Regions from separate parts of the Homo sapiens genome. Here region 1 is linked to region 2. A link means that fine-mapping ties the variant in region 2 to the expression of a gene that starts in the linked region. Tissue or cell type: tibial nerve. Region 2 holds a variant in brackets; the other region holds the start of a gene. All regions are shown on one strand. Distances are from middle to middle.

Region 1 (5,145 bases), 61 kb before region 2:
GAGATGGGGTTTCACCATGTTGGCCAGGCTGGTCTCGAACTCCTGGCCTCAAGTGATCCACCCTCCTCAGCCTCCCAAAGTGCTGGGATTACAGGTGTGAGCCAACATGCCCAGCCTGTGTGTGTGGCTGTTGTACATGAGATCACATTCTTGATTTGGCTCTCAGCTTGAACGTTATTGGTGTATAGAAATGCTACTGATTTTTGTGTGTTGACTTTTTTTTAATCCTAAAATTTTATTAAAGTAATTTATTGGGTCTAGGAGCCTTTTGGTGGAGTCCTCATGGTTTTCTAGCTATAGAATCATATCATCAGTAAGCAGAGATAATTTGATTTTCTCTTTACCTATTTGGATGCCTTTTGTTTCTTTTTCTTGCTGATTGCTCTGGCTAGGATTCCCTAAATACATTTATATTTTAAAGTATTTTCATTTTTTGGAGTTGCATAGTGTTGCACAGTATGACTACACCATAATTTATTTAACCTACTGCCCGTTGTTAATCAATATTTTCGTTGCTTTTGATCTTTTGGTATTGCAAACAATGCTGAGGCAGATACCTTTATTATACAAATTCTGTCACACATGTGAAAAAAGAACATGCTGAACCATCTTGCCTCTTAAAGTTTCTGCTTGGAAGTGATGTCACTTTTTTCTTTTTTCATGAGCCAAAGCAAGTCATATGGCCAAGGCTTCGTTCGTTCATCAGGGCTGAGATGTATAAGCTTCCTCAGGGAGGAGTCCCACTGGAAGAGATACCAAGTTTATGTACTGTATATACCTCTACCAGTGTTTAAAAAATATCACCCTGGGCCAGGCGCGGTGGCTCACACCTGTAATCTCAGCACTTTGGGAGGCCGAGGCGGATGAATCACCTGAGGTCAGGAGTTCGAGACCAGCCTGGCCAACCTGGTGAAACCCCGACTCTACTAAAATACAAAAATTAGCCGGGCATGGTGGCAGGCACCTGTAATCCCAGCTACTCGGGAGGCTGAGGCAGGAGAATGGCCTGAACCCGGGAGGCAAAGGTTGCAGTGAGCCAAGATTGCGCCACTGCACTCCAGCCTGGGCGACAGAGCGAGACTCCCTCTCAATAAAAAAATAAATAAATATAAAAACTATCACTCTGGTTGCTGAATGGAGAATGGATTATACTGGGGAGAGATAGGAAGCTACTCGGGAGTAGAAGTGAAGAATTGACCGCAGTACTTTAGGCAAGAAATGATAGCAGCTTGAACTAGGGTGGTGGTGGTCTGATTCCAGATGTACTTTGGAGGCAGAGTTAGTAGGATTTTTTTCTTGGAGTGGGGATGGGCACAAGGGAAAGTACTGAAAGACAACTTCTAGGTTTTTGGTTTGAGCAACTGGGTGAATGATTGTGACATTTGAGTAAACAGTAACATTTTACTGAGAGGGGAAGACCTGGGGGGAGAACAGGTGGTTTTTTGACAGGGGCAGCGAAACAAATGTTCTGTTTTGAATGTGTTCAGCCTGAGGTGCCTATTAGACATCCAAATTGAAATAGCCAGTAGGCACTTGAATATGTGAGTCTGGAGATCAGACAGGTCAGAGCTACAGAAAATCTGAAGGTGTGGCAGAGCTGAATTGTAAAGCTGTGGAGCTGGATGAGATCTCCTAGGGAGATAAGGGAGAGGGATAAGGGCTAAAGCGTTGGCATACTCCAAAATATATAGGTGAACAGTGGCTTTGGATCCAGCAAAGGGGACTGAGGAGGAACCATTGAGATAGGGAAAAAAACGGTAGAGTGCTGAGTCATGGAAGCAAAAAGAAGAAAGTATTTCAAAGAAGGAATAGTCCATCTATAAGTTGGATATGATAAGGATAGTATTTCAGACTGTGGAAATCACAGTTGACCTGGATAAGTACAGTTTTTGTGGGGAGGTCCCCAGCTCTCCACTGAATGATCTCTTATTAGATCAAATTTGATCTCTAATTAGCAGTCTAATTAGATGGGTTGAAGAAAAGATGGGAAGTGAGGGATAAAGATACGTCTTTTGAGAAGTTTTGTTGGGCAGGTAATAATTGAAGAACGGGAGGGGGACAAAAATGTGAAGATGAAATGATGTGTAAGTGAAATCTTTATGTAAACTGCAAATGCTCTGCAAGTGTTAGGCTTATTTTGTTATTTAGTATTCAAACTTCTAGGAATTTCAATGCAGCTCAGTGTGAAGAATCACTAAAAAGCGACCACTAGTCCTCAACTTGAGGGCCATTAAGGGGCAAAGCCGTCTAGCCAGTGAAGAGCCAAGAAATGAAGAGACGGTTTGAGAAGACGTAGGCGGTGGGGGAACGGAAAGAGGAATCGCGAAACTAATATTGTCCTTCCAAGGACACCGTAGGGCGGATCTCGCAGCTACGGCGTTCTTTTAGGGGTGGAGCCGGCAGGAAATTTAAACTGAAGCCGCGGCCGAAAACGCCAAGAGATTGATGCTGTAGCTGCCCTGAGATAACCAGGACTGTGGAATCGGGAAGAGCTCATGGAGCTCGCGAATGTAATACGGAGGCCTCTGAGGAAGGAGTACGGAGGCCGAGAAGGAGCCGGCATTTGATGAGCGAACCGGGAAAGGGTACGGATGCCGGGAAGGGGAGAAAGAAAGGCGGAAGGGGTCGTTAATAGCTGAGGCGAGGTGCGGAGTCGTGGAGGGGGCTTAGGAAGTGACCAGCGGGTAGGTGCCGAAGCTGAGGAGGGTATAGGGGCCGGGAAGGAGCCACAGGAGTTGAGGGGACCGAGGAATGAAGGTGGCAGAGGAACGTAGGGGACAACAGCCTGGAGGGATGTATGGAGATTGAGATGGACAGGAGGTGGCCAAGAGGTCACGGCCGTTGACTGAACGGAGTCTGAAAGGAGGCGGAGGGCATGAGGGGCAAGAGCCTGGCGGGAGTCGCGGGATGTAGGTCGGAATGGAGTTGAGTCTTGCTGTTCCCAGGAGTCGCGTTTCTGTGCGCGTTTTGGGAGACAGTAGTGGGCGGGAGGCATGGAAGTTCCAAGGGTTGGTGAAGATGGTTGAGTTGCTGTTATGTCCTTTCTCAGGAGACGATTGCCTCGAGCTGGAGAGTTCCATGGCTGAGAGTAGGCTCCGGGCCCCGGACCTAGGTGGGTAACAGGACAGAACTAGGGACGTGAGGTGAAAATTGCCCCAGGGTCTCTTGGAGAAGACCGAAAAATGTTCCCCCTGTTGGAGTTTTCGATCACTCAGTGTTTTTATGTACTTATTTATTCATTTTATTTATTGGGATGGGGTCTTGCTGTGTTGGCCAAGCTGGTCTCAAACTCCTGGCCTCAAGCAGTTCTCCTGCCTAGGCCTCCCAAAATGCTGGGATTACAGGTGTGAGCCACTTCACCAGGCCCACTTAGTGGTTTTATGTGTGTGTGTGTATGGACGCAGCATCATAGACCGTTTTGGGATTCATGATAAAGGTCAAGTAAGAGTCATATTATGAACAAGATTAACAGACAGATGTGGAGTCAGGATAGAGTGACTTATTAAATATATAAATTAATACATTCATAGTTGTTTACAATAAAATCCTTAAGTTAAACACTGCTACCTAATTAGGTAAGTATTTTAGCACATGGCACTTCCCTCCGTACTGCCCCTTTAGTTAATATCATCTAGTTGGCCGGGCGCGGCTGCTCACGCCTGTAATCCCAGCACTTTGGGAGGCCAAGGCGGGCGGATCACGAGGTCAGGAGATTGAGACCATCCTGGCTAACACAGTGAAACCCCATCTCTACTAAAAATACAAAAAATTAGGCGGGCGTGGTGAGGCGTGCCTGTAGTCCCAGCTACTCAGGAGGCTGAGGCAGGAAAATTGATTGAACCCAGGAGGCGGAGGTTGCAGCGAGCCGAGATTGCGCCACTGCACTCCAACCTGGGCGACCGAGCGAGACTCCGTCTCAAAAAAAAGAAAAAAAAAATACCGTCTACTTTTACTTCTGGATTGTTAACAGATATGCCATCGGCTTGTTGCCTTTTAAACAGTAATCCACTTCATTTACTGAGTTATTCATTCTTCCCATCTCTTGTTGGTTTTTTTTCCCCCTTCTGTTTCTCTGGAGAACTTCAAGAGTGTTTTCAAAAGGAGGCTTTGTGTGATAAACTAAGAATATATTTATTTCAGCCTTGTAGTAAAATTTAAGTCAATTTTTTTTCCTTCAACACATTGAAAAATTACAGTATTTTCTCCTTGTTTTCTTCAGCATTTCTTTTTTATTCTTGCTGCTTTGTAAGTGACCTCCTTTTCTCATTAGATGTTTTAGATTATGTGAACCTATGGATTATATTGATGAAAGAAAAAAATGTTTTATTTTATTTATTTTGAGGTCTTGCACCCAGGCTGGAGTGCAGTGGAGCAATCATGGCTCACTGCAGGTTTGGCCTCACCGGGATCAAGTGATCCTCCCACCTCAGACTCCCAGGTAGCTGGGACTGCAGGCACTCAACACCACGCCCAGCTAATTTTTTTTTGTTGTTTGTTTTGTAGAGACGAGGTTTTGCCATGTTGCCCAGGCCGGTCTTCAACTCCTGGGCTCAAGCGATCACCCTCCTCAGCTTCCCAAAGTGTTGGGATTACAGGAGTGAGCCACTGCACCCAGCCCAATATTTTAGATTATACATTTTTATATTTGTTCTTAAAATTTACTATAAGATGATAATGTGTGGATTTTAGAGGGTTTTTATTTTCGTTTTTATTCCAGTTTGATTTTTTTTTTTTTTTTTTTTTTTTTTTGAGACAGAGTCTCGCTTTGTCGCCCAGGCTGGAGTGCAGTGGCACCATCTCGGCTCACTGCAACCTCTGCCTCCAGAATTCAAGCAATTCTTTTGCCTCAGTCTCCTGAGTAGCTGGGATTACAGGAGCACGCCACCATGCCCGGCTAATTTTTGTATTTTCACTAGAGACAGGGTTCCACCATGTTGGTCAGGCTAGTCTTGAACTCCCGACCTCATGATCCACCTGCTTCAGCCTCCCAAAATACTGGGATTATAGGCGTGAGCCACCACACCTGGCCTCCAGATTGATTCTTTAAATTTTTTTAAATTATTATTTTATTTTAGAGACAAGAACTTGCTCTGTTACCCAGGCTAGAGTACAGTGGCACAATCATAGCTCACTGCAGCCTCAAAG
Region 2 (5,145 bases):
TGGGAGGCTGAGGCGGGAGGATGGTCTGAGCCCAGGAGTTCAAGATCAGCCTGGGCAACACAGTGAGATCCCATCTCTTAAAAAATTAATTAATTAATTTTAAAAAAAGAACATTCGCTGGGCATGGTGGCTCACATTTGCAATCCCAGCACTTTGGGATGCCAAGGGTGGATCACAAGGTCAGGAGTTCAAGACAAGCCTGGCCAAGATGGTGAAACCCTGTCTCTACTAAAAATACAAAAAAATTAGCCGGGCGTGGTGGTAGGCACCTACAATCCCAGCTCCTCGGGAGGCTGAGGCAGAGAATTGCTTGAACTCAGGAGGCAGAGGTTGCAGTGAGCTGAGATTGCACCACTGCACTACAGCCTGGGTGATAGAGTGAGACTCCATCTCAAAAAAAAAAAAAAAAAAAAAAAGAACATTGGCCTAATGCTGGGCGGGCTTGGGGCGGTCTTGGGACTCTGTGCCAGCAGGAGTCCCCTCCCCACTCCCCAGGTGCCAGGGCCACAGAGATTCTGGGGACTGAGATAGGTTTGTGTGACCCATCTCTTCCCTCAGACCAGGGACAGGGTTGTGTCCCCGCATGGGGCCAGGCCAGGCAAACACCCCTTGGTATGTGGTCTCTTTCTTTCTCCTACCGCCTTTGGGGGCTCTCCCAGCCCCCTCCTGGGCCACCTCCAGCCAGGCCCAGCCCCCAGCCCCAGCTGCCCCGGCACTGCCCCAGGGGCTTATCTGGTCTGAGCCCTGTGTCCTGCTGGGCTCAGCTGCACCAGATGGGGAAGTGGTGAGAGCTCAGCAGGTGGCAGGAGGTGGTGGACAAGGAGGCTCTTAAGGTATCTGGCCTTCATCCCCCATCAGCTGGGGCTTTCCCCAGAGTGGGGACTGGCTTGGCCTCTGCAGAGAGGAAGCAGGCTTGATGGGGTGGCTCGCAGACCTCCTGAGTGAGGGAGATTCTGTTGGTGCCAGGGCAGACTCTGCTGGAATCTCCAGGCCCAGGATGGTACCAATACGTAGCCAACCTCCTGGCCTCGCATCTGGGCTCATCTGACCATTTTCAGTGGGAAAATCTGAGGCACAGAGAGGTTGCTGGGTCATCCCTGGGGCTGCACGGTCAGAGAGCAGCATTGGGGCAAGGGGTCTGGCAGGCTGCTCCTCTAGGCAGCTGTGGAGGGGGCTGGCATAGGGGCTTGTTGGTGGGAGGCAGATAGAACAAGCAGGAACAGTCCCAGGGGCAGGGGAAGGCCAGGATGGTTCAGGCCATGGGCCGGGAAGAGGATGTGGCGACTCCTTGTCCTTGACTTTCTATTTCGGGCTGATCAATGCTCTAGGGGCTCAGGATGGAATTGGGAGCCTTGGTCAGCCTGGAATAGGGTGAGTCGGTGTCCTTGGGGCGCAAAGGTCAGCCCACCCAGGCCCTGGCCGTTGGTGCCCCCCTTGCTCCTCTCCCAGGACCTCTCATGGACACTGGGCCCTCTTCCATTTTACTCCACCTTTGGGGTGAGACAGCCCTAGAAGCAGACTCCCTAGCTTCACCACTTTTTAGCTGTGTGACCTTGGGCAAGTTAGTCAGCCCCACTGTGCCTGTCTCCTTTCAGATGGGAATGGCAGTAATCTATCCCATAGGGTTGCTGCGAAGATCAAACAGGGCAATACTCTTAGTGTTTAGACCAGGGCCCGGCACACAAGAAGTGCTCGGTAAAGATTAGCAGTGATGAGGTGGTTGAGGAGGAAGCCGACAAGGCACAGGCTATGGATTTCATGACCACAACCTTGGGGCTCTCTTCCTTCCTGCAACCTGCCGTCCCCACCACAAAGGCCAGGCAGCGAACAAAAGCCTCCCATTTGCAGGGCAGAGTGGGTGACCCTCATGTTGGGGTCTGGAGTCAGTCTTCTGGAATGAACAAGGGGTGTGGAGAAGGCCCCAGCCCTGAGTCCTCTCAGCCCTTCCTGGGCCCTGCGGTTGCTGTGATCCAGGCGTCCTCAAGCGCCCAGGCCTGGGGG[G/T]CCGCCATCTTGCTCTGGCGTGGTGTGTTGCTGTGGCAACCTGGAGCCTCCAGCCCCACTGCACTCTGAAAAATTTATCAGGAAAACTTCCATGTTTAAAAATTAACCATGGGATTGAAATATTAAAGATGAGCTGCTTTGGGTGAGGCAGAGGGCAATGGATTTGGGGGTAGAGGAGCCAAGTCCTTACTCCCAACAGGATGGCACCTGCCCGTCGCCCAGTTTCCAGGGGCCTAGCCATCCATTCCCACCCATTCGCCCCTGTCCGAGGCCTCCTATGTAGATGGAGGCTGGGGCCGGGGTAGGGGGACAGGCAGCGAGGGTCCTGCCTCCCATTTCCTGTTTGTCCCTTTCCCATGATACTCCTGGGGCCCTCCCGTTACTCTGCCTGATGGTGGGGTGCCCCTCACCAGCCAGGAGGGCATAATGAGGCAGAGGGCTGGCCGGGCTGCCCCTCTCCATCCCAGCTGCACCTGCAGCCCAGCCCCAGAGAGGATGCACAGGTGCCCGGGCCCAGAGGGCAGAAAGGGGGCTGTGCCCAGGGCTGAGCACTCCTGCCTCTGCCCACTAGTAAAGGAGCAGGGTCGTGGAGGAAGAGGAGCTTGGACAAAGCATCTTGCCCCCAAATCAATGGTCCCCTCAGCTGCTAGGGCTGGCCACCCCTTCCCCAGGGCTACTGTTGCTCCCGGGATCCCCCCGACTCCCACCTTCAGGCCTCCCTGGGTTGACTCCCCCTCTGCCCTCCCCCCACCCAGCCTGTCCATCTGGCCCAGGTGAGTTTCGTCATCCCAGCCTTCAACTCAAACTTCACCCTGGACCTGGAGCTGAACCAGTGAGTGTGGCCTTGAGCCCAAGAGGAAGGGCAGTGGTGGGGCGGGGGAGACATGGCTAGGGCCTGGCTGCTGGGGGTCTGGGGGTTGGGCCTGGGCAGAGGGGACCTGGGTCCTGACCTGAGGCGAGCCTCAAGCCCGACCTCACCTCGCCCGTGACCCCCCTTCCTGCTGCCCCCTCTGTCTCAGCCACCTCCTCTCCTCGCAATACGTGGAGCGCCACTTCAGCCGGGAGGGGACAACCCAGCACAGCACCGTGAGTGCCACTGCAGGGGACCGGGGCCGGGGATGGAAGGGAGGTGCTGTTTCTGTGGTTCTGTGGTCACAGGTGTAGGGACAGGTGGCCACTGGAGATGGGGTCCTGGGCCTGGCCCCTCAGCACCTTCCCTCTCTCCCGACCCAGGAGGCTCTGAGGGTGGACAGTGGGCAGCTTGAGTGCATAGGGCCCTGAAGTCCCCTCACTTGGCCCCAGAGCTCTGACCCCCAGCCAGCCCACGTGGGGCCTACAGGGACACTCGTTCCGAGCAGGCTGCCAGGAATCCCCCTCTCCAGACTCTTCTGAGAGGGACAGCTGAGGAAAGGCCCTTCTTACTCAATATCAAGGCCCCGAAAATCCCAGCTGCCTGGGACACTAGGGTCCCAGCCCTGAAGGCTCTAGAGCCTGAAAATGAATGAGTGTCTATAAATAGCCTGTCTCCCCCCCCCCCGCCCCCACTGCCTGTTCAGTAACTGGAGCACAAGTAATTCTGCAGGAGGCAGAGCTGGAGCGGGAGGGTGCCACTGGTCCCCCCAGCCCCAACCCATGAGTCTGGCCAGGAGGACACATGCTGCCCATCACTCCTCAGCCAACCACAGGCCCAGGGGTGTCCTGGGAGGCAGTGCATGAGGTTGTGTGTGATGTTAGGGGCGAGTACATGATTAAATGAGGTAATATATGGTTAGTGCCAGAGCAGTGCTGGGTACATGGTAGGTGCTAAATAAATGTTGCCTGTTATTCTCAAAGGAGTCTGATCCCTTCCCCAGCCCCAGCAAATGGCTAAGAACCCTTGCTGTACGCTGGGCTCCTATAATCCCATCACTGGGAGGCTGAGGTGGGCGGATCACGTGAGGTCAGGAGTTTGAGATCAGCCTGGCCAACATGGTGAAACACCATCTCTACTAAAAATACAAAATTAACCAGGCATGGTGGTGCATGCCTGTAATCCCAGCTACTTGGGAGGCTGAGGCAGAAGAATTGTTTGAACCCGGGAGGCGGAGGTTGCAGTGAGCTGAGATCATGCCATTGCTCTCCAGCCTGGGCAACAAGAGCGAAACTCCGTCTCAAAAAATAAATAAATAAATAAATACAAAAATTAGCTATGTGTGGTGGCACATGCCTGTAATCCCAGCTACTCGGGAGGCTGAGGCTAAGGCATGAGAATGGCTTGAACCCAGGAGGCAGAGGGTGCAGTGAGCCAAGATCACACCACTGCACTCCAGCTTGAGCGACAGCAAGACCCTGTCTCAAAAAAAAAAAAAAAAAACCATTGCTACAGTCCAGCTTCCTCATTTTATAGATGACGTGAAGGAGGCCCAGAGGTTCCTAACCCCAGAGGGCTAGGAACTTGCCCAGGGTGGCACGGCAAATTAGGAGCACCAGCCATCTAGAAACAGGCTCCAGAGCCCCAGGCATACCCAGGGATTGTGGCCACCTGCACACAGGGCAGCTTCAGTGTCCCCCAAAAAGCCTTGAGGCCCATTGGCTGCCCCCGGCCTCATGCCAGCGTTCTGCTCACTGTTCTGCTCCTTCAGGGGGCTGGAGACCACTGCTACTACCAGGGGAAGCTCCGGGGGAACCCGCACTCCTTCGCCGCCCTCTCCACCTGCCAGGGGCTGCAGTGAGTATGGGGAGGGGCCGGGCAGCTGGGAGAAGCCTCTGGCCCAGGCCTGGGGACGGAGGGGAGCTGCGCCTCTCTCTCCACAGTGGGGTCTTCTCTGATGGGAACTTGACTTACATCGTGGAGCCCCAAGAGGTGGCTGGACCTTGGGGAGCCCCTCAGGTAAGCCCCACACAACCCCTTGCCATCCTCTCTGGTGGCCCTGCCAAGCTTGTCCCAACAGCTGTTGCTGCCACCTCTTCCTCCTCCGGCTCCTCCCTCAGTAACCCCAGCCTCACTGCCCTCTTCAGTGACCCCAGCTCTGGTTCCCTCCCTCCTGTGCCCCAGCTCCCCCTGTGCCCCCAGCTCCAATGTCCCATCTGTCCCATAAGTGACCTCCCATTGGGCTCCAATGTCCTTTGCCCCTGTCTCTCAGGGTGCCCCCAGGTCTTGACCCC

What was found. PIP is the estimated chance that this variant, and not a neighbour inherited with it, causes the effect.
Region 1: DBF4B starts here. The variant in region 2 is fine-mapped to the expression of DBF4B in tibial nerve (GTEx, PIP 0.90).

The regions. Positions count from the first base shown.
Region 1 is chr17:44,706,255-44,711,399 of GRCh38, forward strand. It overlaps DBF4B (DBF4B-CDC7 kinase regulatory subunit), which reads left to right and starts at 2,411. Exons shown (of 14, transcript NM_145663.3): 1 at 2,411-2,585; 2 at 3,050-3,112. The coding sequence starts at 2,567. RefSeq lists enhancers at 2,217-2,731, 2,732-3,245.
Region 2 is chr17:44,766,962-44,772,106 of GRCh38, forward strand. ADAM11 (ADAM metallopeptidase domain 11) reads left to right here. Exons shown (of 27, transcript NM_002390.6): 3 at 2,757-2,833; 4 at 3,021-3,087; 5 at 4,623-4,708; 6 at 4,795-4,870. Among named protein-coding and RNA genes, the nearest start is that of ADAM11, 11 kb to the left of the region's middle. The variant G/T (reference allele first, on the strand shown) is at 2,002.